Linked DNA regions of Homo sapiens. The protein of the gene in region 3 purifies or fractionates together with the protein of the main gene of each other region. This does not show direct contact. Each region holds a gene or a part of one and is shown on either strand. Other genes may lie near its edges.

What was found. The genes of interacting proteins can lie anywhere in the genome.
Region 1: the proteins of SLC5A7 (region 3) and SMPD4 purify together in Homo sapiens (affinity purification with mass spectrometry; one large-scale study listed by BioGRID and IntAct). This does not show direct contact.
Region 2: the proteins of SLC5A7 (region 3) and CHSY1 purify together in Homo sapiens (affinity purification with mass spectrometry; one large-scale study listed by BioGRID and IntAct). This does not show direct contact.
Region 4: the proteins of SLC5A7 (region 3) and UFD1 purify together in Homo sapiens (affinity purification with mass spectrometry; one large-scale study listed by BioGRID and IntAct). This does not show direct contact.

Annotation. Positions count from the first base shown.
Region 1 is NC_000002.12:130,166,970-130,172,121, forward strand, and holds part of SMPD4 (sphingomyelin phosphodiesterase 4), read right to left. Parts: intron 622-5,152; coding exon 489-621; intron 1-488. UniProt on the Homo sapiens protein: Catalyzes the hydrolysis of membrane sphingomyelin to form phosphorylcholine and ceramide. It has a relevant role in the homeostasis of membrane sphingolipids, thereby influencing membrane integrity, and endoplasmic reticulum organization and function.
Region 2 is NC_000015.10:101,240,916-101,246,067, reverse strand, and holds part of CHSY1 (chondroitin sulfate synthase 1), read left to right. Parts: intron 1-5,152. UniProt on the Homo sapiens protein: Has both beta-1,3-glucuronic acid and beta-1,4-N-acetylgalactosamine transferase activity. Transfers glucuronic acid (GlcUA) from UDP-GlcUA and N-acetylgalactosamine (GalNAc) from UDP-GalNAc to the non-reducing end of the elongating chondroitin polymer.
Region 3 is NC_000002.12:107,995,656-108,000,807, reverse strand, and holds part of SLC5A7 (high affinity choline transporter 1), read right to left. Parts: intron 2,971-5,152; coding exon 2,822-2,970; intron 1-2,821. UniProt on the Homo sapiens protein: High-affinity Na(+)-coupled choline transmembrane symporter. Functions as an electrogenic, voltage-dependent transporter with variable charge/choline stoichiometry.
Region 4 is NC_000022.11:19,451,170-19,455,712, reverse strand, and holds part of UFD1 (ubiquitin recognition factor in ER-associated degradation protein 1), read left to right. Parts: coding exon 1-33; intron 34-882; coding exon 883-964; intron 965-4,024; exon of another isoform or gene 4,025-4,119; intron 4,120-4,543. UniProt on the Homo sapiens protein: Essential component of the ubiquitin-dependent proteolytic pathway which degrades ubiquitin fusion proteins.

The DNA.
Region 1 (5,152 bases), about 22 Mb from region 3:
ACATTCAAGTTAAAAGGGTGGGCAGATTTACTTTCATGTTTTCTAAATGTCACAGCAGGAAAATATCAACAATTTAGAATCAGCCCCGGGCTGAGGGGCCGCCTCTGGGACTCTGCCCCACATAGTGGAAGGTGGCAACAGTTTCTTTTCTTTTTCTTTTTTTTTTTTTGAGATGGAGTCTAGTTCTGTCACCCAGGCTGGAGTGCAATGGCACGATCTCAGCTTACTGCAGCCTCCACCTCCTGGGTTCAAGCGATTCTCCCGCCTCAGCCTCCCGAGTAGCTGGGATTACAGGCGCCTGCCACCACGCCCAACTAATTTTTGTGTTTTTAGTAGAGACGTGGTTTCACCATGCTGGCCAGGTTGGTCCCAAACTCCTGACCTCAGGTCATCTGCCCACCTAGGCCTCGCAAAGTGCTGGGGATTATAGGCACGAGCCACCATGCCCAGCTGGCTGAACAGTTTCTTTTGACCAGCTCAACTCTCACCTGGAGCAGAGTTTCTGACCTCCAGATCTCGTGGGAGGCGGGGTCTGCATTCACAGACGTCTGATGAGAGATGTGTCGCTTTAGGAGGCTAGTGTGGTGGAGGCCATAGGAAGCAAAGGGTATGGCTGGTGTCCTGAGGGAGACACAGAAACAGGCCCGAGTTACAGGCTCCCGCTGTAACTCGCTCCCGCTGTAACAGGGGCAATCTGGATATCAAAATCAACGAGAGCAGGGACAGATTACAACTTGTTCAATAGCACAATGCACACCTCCCCCCAGCCCCCTGATCCACACTGATATACCTGAATAAATAAATAGCAAAGAGAGAAGTCTTCCTTACCACAGAGTGACCATTGACCCACAAATCAATGAAGGAGGGATGAAGTTAGAGAACCACCATTTAGTAACCGCCCTATTAATAGCTGATTTGGTCAAGAATCAACAGTGAGGTTGGGCATGGGGGTTCACACCTGTGAGCATGGGGGCTCACACCAGCACCTTGGGAGACCAAGGCAGGAGGATTTCTTGAGGCCAGGCATTTGAGATCAGCCTGGGCAACAAAATGAGAACCTATCTCCACAAAAACATTGAAACATAAAACAGCTGGGCCTGGTGGCATGTGCCTGTAGTCCTAGCTACTTAGAAGGCTGAGGAGGGAGAATGGCCTGGGCCCACGAGTTGAGGCTATAGTGACAAATGATCGTACCAACTTCACTCCACCCTGGGGTGACAGAGCAAGACCCTGTTTCTAAAAAATTAAGAAATTCCCAGCCTGGGCAACATGGCAAAACCCTGTCTCCACAAAAAAATACAAAAATTAGCCAGGTGTGGTGATGCCTCCCTGTAGTCCCAGATACTTGGGGGGTTGAGACAGGAGGATCACTTGAGCCCAGGAGGTTGAGGTTGCTGTGAGCAGAGATCGTACCACTGCACTCCAGCCTGGGGTAAGAGAACAAGACCCTGTCTGCAAATAAAATCAATTTGAAAAAATAGGAGAATCAAAAGTGGATGTTAATACTACTGATAATTACATAGTCTCCATACATCTTCCCGGTAAATTCTCGTTATCAATTTTTTTTTGAGACAGGATCGTACCCTATCGCCTAGGCTGGAGTGCAATGATGCAATCACAGCTCACTGCAACCTCAACCTCCTAGACTTAGGCCTCCCAAGTAGCTGGGACCAACACCACCACGCCTGGCTGATGTTTTTCTTTTTAGTAGAAACAAGGTCATGCTATGTTGCCCAGGCACTATTAATTTTTTTTTTTTTTTTTTTGGTTGAGATACGGTCTCACTCTGTAGCCCAGGCTGGAGTACAGGGGCATGATCTTGGCTCACTGCTACCTCCGCCTCCTGGGTGCAAGCAATCCTCCCACCTCAGCCTCTCAAGTAGCTGGGATTACAGGCGCACACCACCACACCTGGTTATTTTTAAATTTTTGGTAGAGATGGGATTTTGCTATGTTGCCTGAGCTGGTCTCACACTCCTGAGCTCCAGTGATCCGCCCACCTCAGCCTCTCAAAGTCCTGGAATTACAGGCATGAGCCACCATGCCCAGCCTCATTACTATTTAACCTGGGCACAAAGTAATTATTTTACAATGGAAAAACCTGACCGGCACCTTTTTAACCCAGTGATAAAAGGGCACCTGGCAAGGACCAGGTGTCCCACTACGGTGCTCCTCCCAACAAAGCCCATGCTGGGCCTAGTCACCAGCAAATACCACACAGCCTAAGGGGCGGCCGCATGCTCTGGAGGGGTCAAGGTCAGGAAAGACAGAAAGGCAAGGGACCATTCCTGACTGAAGGGGACTAGAAATATCACTATATACAGTGGGTGAGCCTGTGAAACATCACTGCACACAGTGTGAGGCCTGGTGGCAATACTAACTTCCTGGTGTGGTTACAGGCACTGTGACTATATAGGATAATGCATTCGCTTCTAGGAAATACACTGAAATATTAAGAGGTCAAGGGATGCCATATCCTGTAGCTTACTCATATTGGCTTAGAGAAAAAAAAACACATACAATAGAGGTGGAAACCAACACATGCAGCAAAGTATTAACAGTTTGGAAATCTGGGTGAAGATCTATGAAAGTTTCTTTTTTTTTTTTTTCCCTGAGACAGGATCTTGTTCTGTTACCCCAGGCTAAAGTGCAGTGGCACGCTCACAGCTCATTGCTCCTGGGCACAAGTGATCCTCCCACCTCAGCCTCCTGAGTAGCTGGGACCATAGTTGCACATCACCATACTTGGCTAATTTTTTTTTTGTAGAAATGAGGTCTCCCGACGTTGCCCACACTGGTCTCGAATTCCTGGCCTCAAGTGATCCTCCCGCCTTGGCCTCCCAAAGTGTTGGGATTACAGGCGTGAGCCACTGTGCTCAGCCTGCAAGTTATTTTTATTATGCGTGGAAACTTATCTGTAAATCTGAAGTTATTTCAAAATAAAAAGTTAGGTGTGGTGACTTGCAACTGTAATTCCAGCTACTTGGGAAGCTGAGGCGGGAAGATTGCTGAGGCCAGGAGTTCAAGACCAGCCTGGGCAACACAGCGAGGCATCCCCATATCTCCGCAAAAAAAAAAAAAAAAGTTAAATTAGCTGGCTGTAGTGATGCATGCCTATAGTCACTGATGTGACAGGCTGGCTTGAGTGATGATTGTGCCACCAAGTGATGATTATGACACTGCACTCCAGCCTGTGTGACAGAGTAAGACCGTCTTTAAAAATACATAATGGCTAGGCCAGGAGCGGCGGCTCACACCTGTAATCCCAGCACTTTAGGGGGTCGAGGCAGGCAGATCACTTGTGGTAAGGAGTTCAAGATCAGTCTGCTCAACATGGTGAAACCCTGTCTCTACTAAAGATACAAAAATTAGCTGGGTGTGGTGACAGGCACCTGTAGTCCCAGCTACTTGGGACTGAGCCAGGAGAATCACTTGAAGCAGAGACAGCGCCACTGCACTCCAGCCTGGGCAACAGAGTAAGACCCTGTCAAAAAAAAAAAAAAAAGCACACAATGGACCAGTGTAGTGGTTCATGCCTGTAATCTCTGAACTTTGGGAGGCTAAGGCAGGAGGATCGCTCGAGCCCAGGAGTTCTAGAGCAGCCTGGGCAACATAGCAAGACCCATCTTACAAAAAAATAAAATAAAAGCTAGGTGTGGGGGTGCATGCTTATAGTACTAGCTACTTGGGAGGTTGAAGTGGGAGGATCACTTGAGCTCAGGAGGTCAATGTTGCAGTGAGTTGTGATCACAACACTGCACTCCAGGCTGAGCAACCCAGCCAGGCCCTGTCTCAAAAAAAAAAAAATGCTGGGTGCAGTAGCTCACACCTGTAATCCCAGCACTTTGTCTGAGGCCAAGGTGGACGGATTGCCTGAGGTCAGGAGTTTGAGGCCAGCCTGGCCAACATGGTGAAACCCCGTTACTACTAAAAATACAAAAATTAGTCGGGCATGCTGACCTGTGCCTGTAATCCCAGCTACTTGCGAGGCTGAGGTGGGAGAATCACTTGAACCCAGGAGATGGAGGTTGCAGTGAGCCAAGATCATGCCACTGCACCACTCCAGCATGGGCGACAGAGTGAGACTCCATCTCCAAACACAAAATAAAATAAAATAAAATAAAATAAATAAATAAACCCAAACCATATATATATAATTTCTTTTCTTTTTTTTTTTTGTGTGTGTGTACAGTGGTGCAATCTCAGCTCACCACAACCTCCGCCTCCCGGGTTCAAGCAATTCTCCCGCCTCAACCTCCTGAGTAGCTGGGATTACAGGTGTGCACCACCATGCCCAGCTAATTTTTGTATTTTTAGTAGACAAGGTTTCACCATGTTGGCTAGGCTGGTCTCGAATTCCTGACCTCAGGCGATCCCTCCACCTTGGCCTCCCAAAGTGCTGGGATTACAGGCATCAGTCACCACTCCCAGCCTACGTATATAATTTCTAATAGAAAAAATTAAAACAACCCAAAAAGTTAAAACAAGCAAAAAAACCAGGCATCAAAAACTGCTTGGCAGCTGAATTCTGCATCTAAGAGGGTGTGAATCTGCCTCACCTCCGAGTCCTCCACAGGATCAGCAACATTTCAGGGTCACTGATCACTGCCGCTACCTGGGCAGCGTCTCCTCCTTGCCACTCCCTTTCTCCCCTCCACCCTCTGGGGAATCTGTCCACACGTGAATTGTAGGTAAAGGCCTGGCCTGCCTTACACATGCCAGCAGATCTGGGGTGGGCCAGCATCTGCAGGAAGGGGCCTGCATGCAGCTTCCTGGGGAAGGCGATGGGCCAGTGAGATTAAAGAGGGTCAGAGGTGCACAGGCAGCTGCTGCTGGGGCAAGAGGGTCTCCTGGGAAGTCGGCCTGCGTTAGTGCCCACTGAGGACCCAGGACAGCCAGGCATGAGAGCCCCTGGTTCACACTCCCAACCTGTGCAGGCACGCATCAGGCTCAGCCTGTTTGGACTGACAAAACAGGCTCTTTGGCCCAGGGCCTCCCCTTCAAGATCTGCTCCTGGGGCCCATAGAGATTCCTATTTTTTTTGCTCATAGGACAACCTTTCCACCCTGCTCACTGACTCAGACACCGCCTGTGGGGACGGCTGCTCCATGCACAACACAGCCCATTCCCATGCAGGCCGTGGAGGCCTCCA
Region 2 (5,152 bases), on a different chromosome or scaffold from region 3:
AATGATCTCTTCCTAATGCCTTAAATGAAGACGGACTGTTCCTCTACCAACCTTAATGAGATCCTCCTATCTTATAAATCTGAATTCATTTCCTTATTTCTTGAGCTAAGTAAACCATGTTTATCTTGAAACAGTTCAGAGCAGTCCTCACTTTCTTAGATAGAATTCAACTTGGCAAACATTTATACAGAAGGCTTTTCCATGTAAAATCCAAATAATCAACCTGTAAGTGAACTTTTGGAGCACCAAGTCATTTCAGATCGTGAATTTCCTGTAGGAGACTAGGGAACCATGTGGCTCTGAAAATGAGTGTAGTTTTTTATGTCAGGTTCAAGATCTTGAAGCGCTCAAACAATATTCCAGGGATTTCCAGGGATGGCTGTGGCTGTCAATAGCGGATTGATTCCAGGGATAGATGTGGCTGTCAATAGCGGATTGTGCGTGACTGTTTCCATTGCACCGGCAGCTTCACGTTCCCCTGTCTGTTAACTAAGCTGCTCTTTATTAACAGTAGATTCCAAATACAGGGCCCTAGTCTCTGCAGAGTTCATTGTCTCAGAAGGAAACGAGCGATGGTATTGGTTGATGAGGGCTGTCAGGGTGCGTGAACTAATCACTGTGGGGGAGCAGAAGAAAGAGGCTTACACCCAGTGGGTGATGGATCAAGAAATGTCTCACCCACACTCCCACCCTTTTTTTACCCACTAGCTGAGTCTTGGAAGATGAAGAGGTGTTTTTGAGGCAGAGACAACTACAGGTTTCCTACAACATGAAATGGCAGGAGTTAGTGAAGGAGCGATGGGAAAGGCCAGCTCTTTGGGGCTAGGTGTAGGCTGTGGGTGGTAGAGTGGTGGGCAGGGACATGGAGGGAAGGTCTGCGTGCCAGGCTTTGTGTGGTTGCTGTCCAGAGCTATTGGTGACATTTCGGCAGGACAGTAGCCTGATGGGATGTGTGTTTTGGAAGATCAGCCCAGCGGTGTTGCTGCTGCAGAGGGTGGCTAGAGTTGGTCAAGTACCGGTACCTAGCTAGAGCTGGACAGGACCGGTACCTGTTGAGGGACGCTTGGGTAGCATTTATCAAGAAGTCTAAAATGCAGCTCTCTTGAGGTCTGGCAATTGCTCTAGAATTTTTTCCAAAGGAATTTTAAAGGTGTGCTTAAATGTGTACATATGAAGTGGAAATTTCAGGTATTTTAGGTGTCCTGCTTTAGGAGATAAGGACCAAAATTGACTTAACTGATTCATCCATACTGTGGTCTGCATCTCTAACAAGTAAAAATGGTGTGGCTGAAATACTTTTATTGACATGAGGAGAGGTTCAGAATATACTTAAGTGAAAGTAAACTGTAAAACAGTATGGCCAGTACAAAGCCCTTCTGTGTTTAAAGTAAAACAAAAGTGTATGTTTGTGTAGCATAGAAAAGGAAACATCAAAGGATGTACTCACTGTGATGCCAAGTGATCTTTTATATTCTTCTTAGCTCTTTTCTATATATTCTGGTTTTTCTACAGTAAGCAGTTATTTTGTAATAAAGCTACAGTAAAACCACAAAAAGATGTCAGCTCTAAGAGAAACTGCATTCCATTTTGAGCACGTTAGGCTGCTGGTGTGGAGGTCCGCTAGGCACAGAGCTGCAGCCCGTTCTCGTTTCAGTCAGTTACCATTAATTCTGTCCTGAAGTGACAGAATTAGCTTAGCACACATTTACTTGGTTAGTGTCACAACCGTTTTCCTCAGTTACTGTAACTTCACGCTTCCAGGTGACATTGGGGAGGATCTGGTGGCAGCATTTTCAGTGCAGGGGCCTCAGCTTTTGTATCTTAATGTAAATACTCAGTGCTTCCACCTGTTGTTGAGGCCTTTTTGGCTTCTGGTTCCGGATGGCATTGGGTGAACAAGAAAACCTAGCTACAGTTTACAAGCATAAAAGCTGTCCATCTTCTCACCTGAATTCAGTGTCATCTCTGAAGCATTTATAGCTGCAGCATTTTTTCTGTAGACAAATACATTTTCTGGATGATTACAAATAAGGTCCAGTCTGCTCTGATGTGGTGTCAAGTTGATGCCTGTAAACCAAAAGCCTGAGGATTATTGACTGTAGGTGTTGAGGCCATTGAAATTGTGGTTTTCTAGGTGGACCATAGGCGCAAAGACTGTTACACTTTGCTCGGCGTGTTTGGTAACTGATGGCAGTGTCTGCAGGTAATTGGGCACAATTTAGAGGCGCACACGGATCCAGACACAGAATGTGGCCTCAGAAGCTAACACTGGAATCAAGTTGTCTGGCCTTCAGTTAAATCCAGCCCAAGCACTGCAAAGTTGTCCTTGACCGGCAGGTTTTGTCCAGGTTTTCAAGTCGCCAAGCCATGCATGCTGGGAGTGGGTCTGAAAGTGGTTGAAGTGTGTGTAAGGCTGGTCTCCTTATCCACGATGACTGTTTGTTCAGCCTTAGCAGTGTCCGTGAGCCTGGAAAAGTGATGTGGGTGACCACCTGGGAGGCGCGTGTGTGGGATGGAAAGCCAGTGTGGAGGCTGTGGGGCCAGGGTGGCTGGTGACTGTGTTTAGGTGGGCTTTATAGAGGACGGTGCCTCAGTTCAGGGAGACGGTGATTTGCAAAGTGGTCGGCCAGAACAAGTTCAGGGTGGTTTAATTGTTTGCATTAAACGATACTGATTTTTGGTTCATGTGGATCATTAAGTATTAGTCGCATATTTATACTTTTAAGGATACAGCAGCGATATGCAAATTATGAAAGGAGCTCTCCAACACTTTCAAGCTTTGGAAATGTCTCATGAGATCAGAATTCGTCTTCTGTCATTTACACTCCAAATTTTAATTGTGATGTTTCAAAAGTGGCCTATTTGTGGTCTCTGTTCCCATTGTTTGCCGTGAACCTGGGCTCAAAGGGCGGGCTCCTCGTAGCTCTTAATACCTTGGAATGCCGTCTGGGCTTGTGCCCAGGCCATTGTTGAAGTGGGAGGCTGTAATCCCCCCTGCCAACAGCTTAATTAAGAAAAAAAAGGGCTCTTTACTGCTTGCTTTCCCCTCAAGTCTATTTTTTAGGATGGACAGTAAGGAGTATAATTTGGTTTTTCTTTTAAAATAATTTTCCCACCATTCACAGCCTCTGTTACATTTTCCCACCTCCTTTCAAAAAGGGTTTGAGATTGGACAGGTCATAAGGACGTGCACGATGAGACAGTTAAAGGTTTTGAAAGAGGAAACCACATACCCGGAAACCACATGCACAGAAGTGGGAAACTGCAGCTGAATGCATTTGCTGCAGAGCTTTTGGGACCAAGGCAGAAGATGGAGATGAGGGATTGAACAGTGTTTGCAACATCCTGCCAGAGGGGATTCCTTCCGGCCGAGGAGAGGCCCGTGGCATCACTTGGTGGCCTTGAAAGACCCCTCCCTTTTCTGAAGGCTGTGGCTCTGGCTGGCAGCATAGAGTGGTGCCCTCCGTGTACTCTCTTGGAGGATGAACTTGGACTGCTGCTCCATCACACTGTACTTCCTGTAAGGATACCTCCATCATTGACCTTGGGAGAAGTTTCCCTCAGGCCTTAGTATGTTTTTACACTTAACCCTGAACAGTAGGACACAGTCTCGTGACTTCTCATGGCTGCCTGCTGAAAAGTTTGTAGCTGAATTTGGGCCCACCACTAGCACATCCGTAGGTCACGTGATGGCAGGTAGGTCTCAGCACAAGAGCACTTTGCAGTTGAAGTGGTGGCTCCTGAGAGTGCTCTCACTGAGTCAGGGTTTGCCCTGGGCAGGGCAGCCTCCACCAGGATTTGCCTTTCGTTCCTTGCGTAAGGGTTTCCTACTCTTACTTTTCTTTGGTCTCATTTTCTTGCTGATTTTTCTCATCCTGTATGATTTTGGTTAAGTTGTCTTAAATCCCTTCTGTAACAGGGGAGAATGTAAATACAGCTGGCCCTGCTATCTGCTACATCTGTGGATTCCACCATCCATGGATTGAAAATATTTGGGGGGAAAAACAATAGAAAATAACAATAATAAAAACAATACAAGTAAATACAATATAGTATAACGACTATTTACATAGCATTTACATTGTATTAGGTATTATGAGTAATCTAGAGACTATTTAAAGTATACAGGAGGGTATGTGAAGGTTTAAGCAAATACTGCACCATTTTATATCAGGGACTAAAGCGTCTGTGGATTTTGGGGTCCTGGGATCATTCCCTCTTGGATGATAAGGAACAGCTGTATATACCCTTAATTCCTATTATCCATCAGTTCTACAGAGAGAAAAACCCATATCCTCCCTTCTTTAACTTCCAAGATGATTTTATCATGAGTCCTTTTAAACTGACTGCCGTGTAGCCATCAGACAGCACATGTAATAGTGATTTTGGGGAACTCACAGAAAATCTCCCCACCTTTTTAATGGTAACTAGTAGAATAACTATTAAAGCTTAAAAATCACAATTGAAACGACTCAATCTTACTCCATTTTTCTTTCAGTTTTTCTTGTTGGATAAAAAAATTTTATTACAAAAGTAAAAATTCTCTGTTGTTACATGTTTTGATTTCTTTGGTTGCTTGTTAGCCTCAAAGCTTTTGCCCAGTTAAAACTTTTTTTCCAGCTCTAAATATACCTGTTGCAGAAAACTTAGAAAATTTAGAAAACACAAGGAAGACTATTGGCCGGGCGCAATGGCTTCCGCCGGTAATCCCAGCCCTTTGGGAGGCCGAGGTGGGCGGATCACAAGGTCAGGAGTTCGAGACCAGCCTGACCAACATGGTGAAACCCTGTCTCAACTATAAGTACAAAAATTAGCTGGGCGTGGTGGCAGGTGCCTGTAATCCCAGCTACTCGGGAGGCTGAGGCAGGAGAATCGTTTGAACCTGGGAGACGGAGGTTGCAGTGAAATCACGCTGTTGCACTCCAGCCTGGGCGACAGGGCCAGACTCCGTCTCAGAAAACAAAAAAAAAGACTATTAAATCCTTTCTGGTTTTCCCATCCAAAAATAACCACGGTGAATACTTTGGGGGTGGAGTTGTACGTTATTTTATTTTTGTATATGTACTTTTGTTCCCTTGGTAAGCCACATCACAAGTATATACTGTTGCCTGCTTTTTAAGCTTACCCGTATATTATGAATATTTACCTAGGA
Region 3 (5,152 bases):
GACTGGGCAACTTGGTGAAACCCCATCTCTACCAAAAATACAAAAATCAGCCAGATGTGGTGGTGCACACCCGTAGTCCCAGCTACTCAGGAGGCTGAGGTGGGAGGATTGCTTAAACCTGAGAGGCAGAGGCAGCAGTAAGTGGTAATTGAGCCACTGCACTCCAGCCTGGCTGACAGAGCCAGATCCTGTCGCAAAAGAAAAAGAAACTGCCAGGCACAGTGGCTCATGCCTATAATCGTAGCACTTTGGGTAGCCACTGTTAGAGGATTGCTTGAGTCCAGGAGTTCAATATCAGCCTGGGAAATACAGTGAGACCTGGTCTCTACAAATAATAATAATAAACAAAATAAAATAAAAATTTTTTAAAAATTATATTTGAAATATATATCCATATAAAAGTGTGTGTAGGCACACACACTTTTATGTTTTCTGTGAATTAGGGAAAGATATCCATTCCTTAAGGGAAAGATATCCATTCATTAAAGTAATAAGAAAATATGTGATTGAGAAATACATGGGTGACATATAAGCCTTCAAAGATGGGCCCAATACTAACAGGTAGAAGAATAAAGAATTGAAGGAAGAGATGTTTAGATGGAGCAAGTCAAAGAGGAGAAGAATAAATGGGGTGTGTGTGTGTGCGTGTACACTCGCACCCACATCTGTTGGTGACAGGCTTTGCTGGCAAGGGAGTAGCTTGGGGAAATGGGAGAGATAAAGATGGATGTGTGGAGAAAACTCAAATTGCAAGCTAAAGGATTTGTATTTTGTTTTTGCAGGCAACTGGAAGCTAGAAAAAATTCTTTTAAGTCTTAAAAAGTTTTCAGTGGAATTTATTCTGAAATTTAATAACATAGACATGAATGGTGAGTTTAGTGAAAAGGAAGAGTCAGGGAAAGTGGTAGGTGATTTCAATTCCACCTAGATGAAGGCTGAAGTAAAGCAGTGACACTGGGAATGAAAAAATATCGGTACTAAAAAGGATTATGAAGAGTGAGCCAACAACCCTTACAAGAAGGAGAGAGAGGTCAGAGAGAGGGAAAATGAAAAGAAAAACCTCAAGTTTACAGTTTTGGAGCTCCAGGGGTGATGATAAAATCAATGACATTAGAGAATTTGAGAAAAGAAGGTGGTCTAAGGGGTAAGTTGATTAATTATGTATGCTCACACAGCAATTAAAGTTTGGAAAACAACATTATTTAGTCTTTTATTCAACCAATTCAATAGGGCCTTCTCTAGTAACCAACAGAACTCCATTCCTTATCAATTTGGCTACATTTTGTGGCAGGAAAAATATTCTAACATATTTGCACTGTCATCTTTACACTTGCATACTTGATTTATGCACCCGTGGGTTTTAAGTTCTAGTCTCATACAAAGCAATGAGAAATCACATATATCATCAATAACAGGTTCATTCCCTGGGGTTGTGTTTCTTGGAATACCTAGTGCATCAGTTATGAGAGCTGTCATTGCCAAACCAACCTGGCTCCTGACATTCTGAAGAGGGATTTATTTCTATGTTCCCTATTTTATTTCTGGAAGTTTATGTTGATGCTAAGGAAAAATCAGAATTTCAGCACGGTCCACTTAATTTTGGTAATTTAAATACAAAATAGTGGGAGTCCTTGAGCAAATTAAATATTCTCATATTCAGTTACAATATGAATGGACGAAATTCCATGAAATGCAAATAAAATGTCTAAGGAGAAAAGAGAAAATACTATAATCTTTGCTAGCGTATGTAAATTTATAGTTAAACTGCACATCTAATTGTAGTCTGTTTTTTACAATTTTTCCTCTAGGATATTATTAGAGATGATGGAAAGTTTATAAAAAGGAGAGAAGGGCATGAGATTACTTCTTCATTTTTAATTTCTAAGTGTCTAGTGTCAAAAGTAAAATATAATGAAATGCTTTAAATTGTAAGATAAATAAATAAAGATGAGGAGAATCAAGAGTACTTAACCATCCTTGGGAAAATGAATCATGATCTCTAGTGTTAGGTTGCTCAGTCTGTGGCCTTTGCAGGAGGGCATTGCCCCTAAAGAATCTACAACTGGGATAATATATGTGTATGGTGAGATAATGTACATGAACCTATGATGACCCTAGCCCAGCATGGACACACCAGTTTTTATTCTTCTTTTGATACATCTTAGGTATTGAATATTATATGCATAACTGTACTCTTCACATTTCTTCAACATTGACTAAAATATGTTCAGACACACAAAAGTGCTTTTAATATAGTGCTAATAATACTAATAATACTCATGTCTCATAATTATAATAAAAACAATAGATAATAAATCTTTCTGGTGCCTTATATAATTAAGAATTTTCTTTGTTTTTAGACCACAAATAGTGATGATTAATATTTGAAATCCACAGTTTTCCAATGGGATCATTTCTATGTCTTATGAGCATTCTTAGGATTCACCAACTAACGTAAAGGGAGACTTGTACAAGTTACCACTAAGGTTTGAATTTTGTTATCTCTGCCGAGGGAAATGGATTGCCTTAAATACTAAAAGGAGATCATGCATAAGTTTCCATCAAATCTAGGCATTAAGGAAAGCAAGACCTAGACCTTTCTAACAGTCCAATGGAGAGCACACTTTTCTGTCAAATTTTATCAAAATGACGAGTTTTTCATCTAATTAATTTATGGAGAAATTTGAAATTTCATGTATGTGACTTAGTATGTATTACTCATGAGGGAAAATAATATTTCTACTCATTTTTAATGAGTTAGTATAAAATACATTACCTTTTACAGAAAAAAAGGAGGAGAATCTTGGGTGCTCCCACTTACCAGCCCTACAAAAATGCAAAAGAGCTGAACGACATCAGTGTAGGCCACAGAATAGAGCCCTCCCACCAGTGTGTACAGAGTGGCAATGAGTGCAGAGATGATGACAGAAATGTGCATATCCACATCGATGATCACGCTGATGGTGGCTCCTGAAACAAACAAGAGAGTTCTGTGGTCAAGGTGCCCAGACAGATTCTGCTCTTTGTATAAGGACATAATGAAAGTTCAGTGATAAACAACATTTTTCTCTCTGTCATATGAAATGCAGTGGATGAAAACACCTAAAGTTAATTTTTATATTGAAATTTGTATATCTTAATAAATTCAGTGAGATACATACTTTTTCTTTCTGAAATTACTGGTTTGCTAACTTATTTATTTGGAGGACACACAGATCCATGGTATGGTTATAGAAGACCCTGAATTACTGAGAAATTTAATTACATTACAAGAACTCAAAATAATTTCACTATCTGGAACTCTGACTCAATCAAATACAGCCATGTGTTGCTTACCAATAGGGATGTGCTCTGAGAAATGTGTTGTTAGGTGATTTCACTGTTGTGCAACTTCACAGTATGTACTCACTCACAAATCTTGATGGTGTAACCTACTACACACCTAGGCTACATGGTATGGCCTATTGCTCCTGGGCTACAAATTCGTGCAGATTGTTACCGTACTAAACACTGTAGGCAAGTGTAACATGATGGTAACTATTTGAATATCTACACATCATATCTAAACAGAGAAAGTAACAGTAAAAATATGCTATTATAATCTTATGGGACCACTGTCATATATGCAGTCCATCATTGACCAAAACGTCATTACATTACCAAACGTCATTAGTCACATCTATGAAAAACACAAGGCTTTCTGAGAAACATGATCACCCATTTCCACATTTTACAATTGACATTCATTTGCCATTTTGCATTTACTCTGCCCCCTACTAGGCTTTGATAGCTAACAAATGGTTAAGGCAGCAAAGAATTGAGAAAAATTTGTAGGAACAAATTATCAAATTGGTAAATGTTATTAATCAATTTCTCCCTCTTTAATTTGCGACAGATCACTCTTCTTTTATTTAATTGGTAGAACATACCAGTCCTGCTCCTAGGATACCAGTATACTGAAGAGCCTAAGATTTGAATATCATATTTTTAAGTAATTTTCATCATCAACATTTTAAACTTCTCTTAGAAATCAAATTTATGTTTCTCTTTATAACATTGTTTATTGTGTTTGTTGGTCCCTATATTTCCACTGAACATATTGAGGTATGACCAGTTTGGGCCGCTGTGGTTCTTGGACTGACAGTTCATAATTCACTTGTTGCTTTAGTAGCCTTTTCCCTATTGTTCTCAAAACTATACAGTTTACATGTCACATTATTAAATGCATACATGTAATGGATCTGTGATTTTATGTATCATCAGTTGCAGCCAGCTGAGTTGTCTTACACCCTACCCCCATTCCTCAATTGGCATGCTAGTAGTATATGCAACCCACTGGAGATGAAACTACATTATCTCAATATAAGATGTGTTGATCCAAAATATCAGTAAGAAATATTTTTCAGTGTTTTGCTATGGTGATAAAATAGAATTATTTTCCAGAGTAAAGATCCCTTGAAAAGAAAAATCTAGTAAGAAGTTGGAGAATGAAGACAAGGATGAGAGATAATTATAGATGAGTGACTTCAGATAACTGACTGAGTTATTGTTTTATAGATATTTGAAAAGTTATTTTTTCCTGAGATCATTTACTTCGAATCGAAACTTTACTTCCAACACTTTGTCGTTCTTTTTTTTTGTGTGTAGTTCTCCACTTTAATAACGCTTCTAAGCTATATACCATGAATTATGAAAAGTTCAATTATAAAATAAAGATTAGCTGACTAAAATCTCAAAGATTTGGGGTCCTAGTAGATGCTGTCACTTAACTGTAACTCAGAGATATTAGAGACGTCAATCACTTCTCCATTATCACTATTAAAATTGAGATAAAATTTTCTCTAAAATATTTTCTGAAAAATTAAATCAATTGTAAGTAAAACAAAGTGATACTTTGAGGTATACCAGGAAATATTAGTCTACTCATGAAGCTATAAAATAAGTATCCTGCAAAGTTATGAAAATCCACTGAACTTGAGCTGTTAGAAGTGTAAATACACATTTCTTCAAAATGTTGTAGGATGTCAATTTCTACCAAGAAGATAGTTTAAGATTCTCCTATGTTTCAATGGTGAACTATACACATTCACAGAAAGGTGGTAATAGATCTTATATATTCTTGAATATATCAAATTATTTGTAATAAACACTA
Region 4 (4,543 bases), on a different chromosome or scaffold from region 3:
CCCCTCCCCAATCAAGCCTGGAGATATTAAAAGGTAGGTCTGTCCTGGCTCTCCTCCAGGACAGGAGGAGGATCTGTGCCAGCCCGCTGGGGTCGGGCAGCCTCACCCCAGTTCTGGAGACAAAGCCTGGGTCAGTAGTCTCCCAAGGGACTAAAACCCTTAGCTGCTCTCCTTGGTGGGGTGGAGCACAACATGCCCCTCCTTCCACAGTGCCACCCCCAGTACCACTGTGGTCCAGCCTCTCTCCATACCTCTCCATACCCCCAATTCAGCCTCTTCTTGCCCCCACTGGCTTTCCTAAGATGCGAGTCTGATTAGATCTGTCTCTTACTCAAAACCTTTCTGGTCCCTATTTGGTGATCTGCCTATTTTCCTGTTTTGTGACTTGGAATTATTAATCAGGTCACATTATCTCAGTTCCCCTGAAAGTTCCCTGAGGAGCTACCTCAGATGTGCTTCTGTTGCTGGGTCCGGGGACCCACAGCAGACCCTTCCTCTGGTGGCCATGATGGCAGGGGCAGGGCTGAGGTGTGTCAGTTGTCTGTTGTGTGTGTGAAATCAGAATACTGGAGTGAGAGTCTAGCCACCTCAGGGGGTTCTGTGAAGCTCAGGACAGTGACAGTGAGGGCTTCCCAATCCTTCAGATGACCCCTCTCCATAGACAGGTACAGAGCCTAAAGCCCCTGGCCCTATACCCAATATTGATACCAAACCAAGAAGTCAGTTACTTTCTGCTTCCCTCCTGGGAGGATGCCAGGAAGCACCAAAGGGCCCAGGTGGGGTGCAGCAGCATCTTTTCTGCGTTCCTCTTGACTGTCAAAAATGAATTTTAGTCCTTTTTTCCTGGAAATAACATTTCTCTGTCTCTGTCTCTTCTTACAGAGGAATTCCCAATTATGAATTTAAACTTGGTAAGATAACTTTCATCAGAAATTCACGTCCCCTTGTCAAAAAGGTTGAAGAGGTGAGTGTATTTCCTTGTATTTCCTTGGTTGGTAATGAGGAGATTTATTTGCTAGTGATGACTGAAGTTCTTGGCATTCTGAGTAGGGGTGTGCATTAGTCTGTTTCCAAGCTGCTGGTAAAGATGTACCCGAGACTGGGCAATTTACAAAAGAAAGAGGTTTAATGGACTTACAGTTCACATGGCTGGGGAGGCCTCACAATCATGGCAGGGGGCAAGTCACATCTTACATGGATGGTAGCAGGCAGAGAAAAAGCTGGTGCAGGGAAACACCTACTTATAAAACCATCAGATCTCATGAGACTTATTCACTATCATGATAACAGCACGGAAAAGACCCGCCCTCATGACTCAGTTACCTCCCACCGACTCAGTTACCTCCCACCTGGTCCCTCCCACAACACGTGGTAATTCAAGATGAGATTTGGGTGGGGACGCAGCCAAACCACATGAGGGTGTCTGTCATGTTTTCCCTTTCCTAGGGTCCCTCTGCTCCCTGGTGTCCTGTTTTTTTCTGTAGAGCTGGTGTAGGGTGTATGAAACAGAAGACTTGCAGCATGGGGGTCAGGAGCTCTGTCTTGCTCTAGAGCCGACTCCAGGCTCTGTTATCACAGAACTGTGTGCCCTGGGTGGGCTTCGTCTTCCAACAGAGACCTTGAACTTCAAATATAGGCAGCACCTTCTAGCTGAGCAGGGTGGTGGCGGGACAGAGGAAGGCAAGGGCTGAGCATCCTGTAGACATGGGCACTTTGTGGGAATATGGCCAGGCCTGGCAGCAACTGGAACGCAGTCACCTCTTTGTGATGAGGATTTCTACAACACCAGCGCTTCAGACCCATCGCTCTCCTGGTTCCTTTTCTCAAAGGATTGGACCCTTGAGGATCCAGGATCAGGGCAGAGGGCAGATGTACTGAGCCACCCATTCAGGACCAGCTGCTACATGGGAGCCATCCCAATTACTGAACTCTTTTCTCTAGCACTTGGGGTGGTTGGGGACAGAGACCACTGTGAAGTTTGCACACCTGGTCCTACTCACAACCACTTCTGGGCTCAATGTTCAAGTTGAAACAGCATTGGGCATTGGGACCTTTCAGGCTCAGAGGAGCAAACATAGTGGCCAGTCAGACCTCACCCTCCAGCTCCTCCTTCAGGCACCATCCAGGCTTCACCAGCTACAGGCTGCCTTTCTCACTAAAAGCCAGTGCCTGACTCCGACCTAAGACCTTAGCATGGGACGTCCCCCAGGCTGACTGTGACCTGACTGTTGCAAATTTACAGAAGGCAGGGGAGGCCAGTGGGCACAGCAGGCCTGTTTGACCATAAATATGTATTTAAGAAGTATATGTTTAAAGATGGGATTGAAGACATATTTAGCTCTATTCCATCCTGCAGCCCCACTAAGGCTGTGGCTAAAGGTCATGAGGTAAGAAAGACAGTGGAAGAGGAGGCAACTACAAGGCTTTGGAAGCCCCAGGTACCTTAGTAGACCATAGAAAGCCTAGAAGCAGTTCTGTGTAGATTGTGGAATTCTCAAAAGGCACCTCTAGAAATGAGGGACTAAAGACAGAATTCTGTTACTAAGCAGTTAGAGCTGCATTACCCTCCCTCCCCCATCCCAGAAGGCTGGAGGCTCGACTCCAGTAGGTCTCTAGACTACTATCTCTGAAGTGAAGGCCACAGTCAGAAAGCTTTCCATTCCAGCATCTAAATAATAGAGGATTTGTGGGAAGAACAGCCACAGAAACCAAAGGAGCAGAAATCATCAGGGAAATAGTTTCCCCAAAGATGGGCACAATTTTGCAGATTTGAAGGGCTCACTGAGTTCCAGCAAAATGAATGAAAATAGCCCCACTTTGAGGCAAAGAAAGATCCTAAAGCTTCTAGAGAGAGAACAGAGGTATCACCATGCATTAAGGACATCATCAGCCAAGCGCCATGGCTCACACCTGTAATCCCAACACTTTGGGAGGCTGATGCGGGAAGATCATCTGAGCCCAGGAGTTTGAGACCAGCCTGGGCAATATAGGGAGACCCTGTCTCTACAGAAAATTTTAAAAATTAGCCAAGCATGGTGGCACGCACCTATAGTCCCAGCTACTTTAATGCTGAGTTGGGAGCATCACTTGAGCCTGGGAGGTGGAGGCTGCTGTGAGCTGAGATCACACCACTGCACTCCAGCCTGGGTAACAGTAAGTCCCTGTCTCCCAAAAAAAGGGACATCATCTTAGCAGGACACAGAGGAAACTAGAAGATAGTGGAGCAATATACTCAAAATTCTGAGGGGAAATTTTTTCCAACCTAAAATTCTGTACCAACTCTTATGAGCTGGATTGTGTCCCTCCAGTGTTTCTGTGTTGAAGCCCTAACCCCCAGTAACTCAGATAGGGCCATTTAAAGAAGCAATTAAGTTAAAATAAGACCATTAGAGTTGGCCATAATTCAATCTGGTGTCCTTTTAAGAAGAGGAAATTTGGACATAGGAAGGGCCATGTGAGGACACAGCAAGAAGGCAGCCATCTGCAAGCCAAGGAAAAGGGTGTCAGAGGAAACCAAACCTGCTGACACCTTGATCCTGCACTTCTAGCCTCCAAAACTATGAAGAATAAATTTCTGTTGTTTGAGCCACCCTATCTTTGGCATTTTATATGGCAGCCCTAGCAGACTAACATACCAACCAGCCTATCAATGAAATATGAGATTAGAAAAAAGGAACTCACAAGAAGATAATCCTCATGCATCTTTTCTCAGGAAGCTCCTAGGAGGTGTTCCTCACTAAAATGAAGGAATAAGGTAGAAATAAGAAAGTCATAGAATCCAGGAAATAAGGAGCCCCCACTAACATGTACGGCACCTAGAGAAAGGCCAGTCCAGGTACGGCAGGGCGAAGGCCCAGGAGACACAGGTTTGTCAAAACAGATGAACTCCATGCAATGCAGGCTGTGATTGAATAGAGGAAGAAGCCAAACACAGCTATTGACACCAGGATGAATGGAAGGCTGTGCGGCAAAGGAAGACTAAATGCAGCTGTGACTCAAATTTACATGAATGTGACCACATAAATACTAAACAGTGCTCTATTGCAGGTATAACATGCTACAGTTAGTGGGGAGCCAGGTGCAGGGATGTGTGTTGAACATTCCAGAATCCTCTTCTTCCTAGGGAAAAGTTGAGATAATGCCTCAGACTGACTAGCAATAAAAGCATGTGAAAAAAAATATGTGCAGTTTTCAAAGGTTTGGGAAAAAACAATCCCTCTTTCTGCTGATGGAAGGATAGCTTAGTGGAATGTTTCTGAGGGCTGGTTGGTCTCTATATGTTAAAAGCATTAAAAGTGTGTACACACTTTGACCCAGGAATTTGAGCTCTAAAAAAAATCAGAGTTGTGTGCAAATACATTAAGCTGCTTACCACAACAATGTCCACTGGTAGAAAACTGGCCCTCCTACATCATGGAATTCTTTTTTACAGAATTCAGTTCTGTAGCCTTGGGAGTATACTAGACAGGAAGTTTATTGGCATGAGATTTCAGAATTAAGTGGGAAAACAATTCTTTAAGCATGTACAGAAAAGTGACCTGAA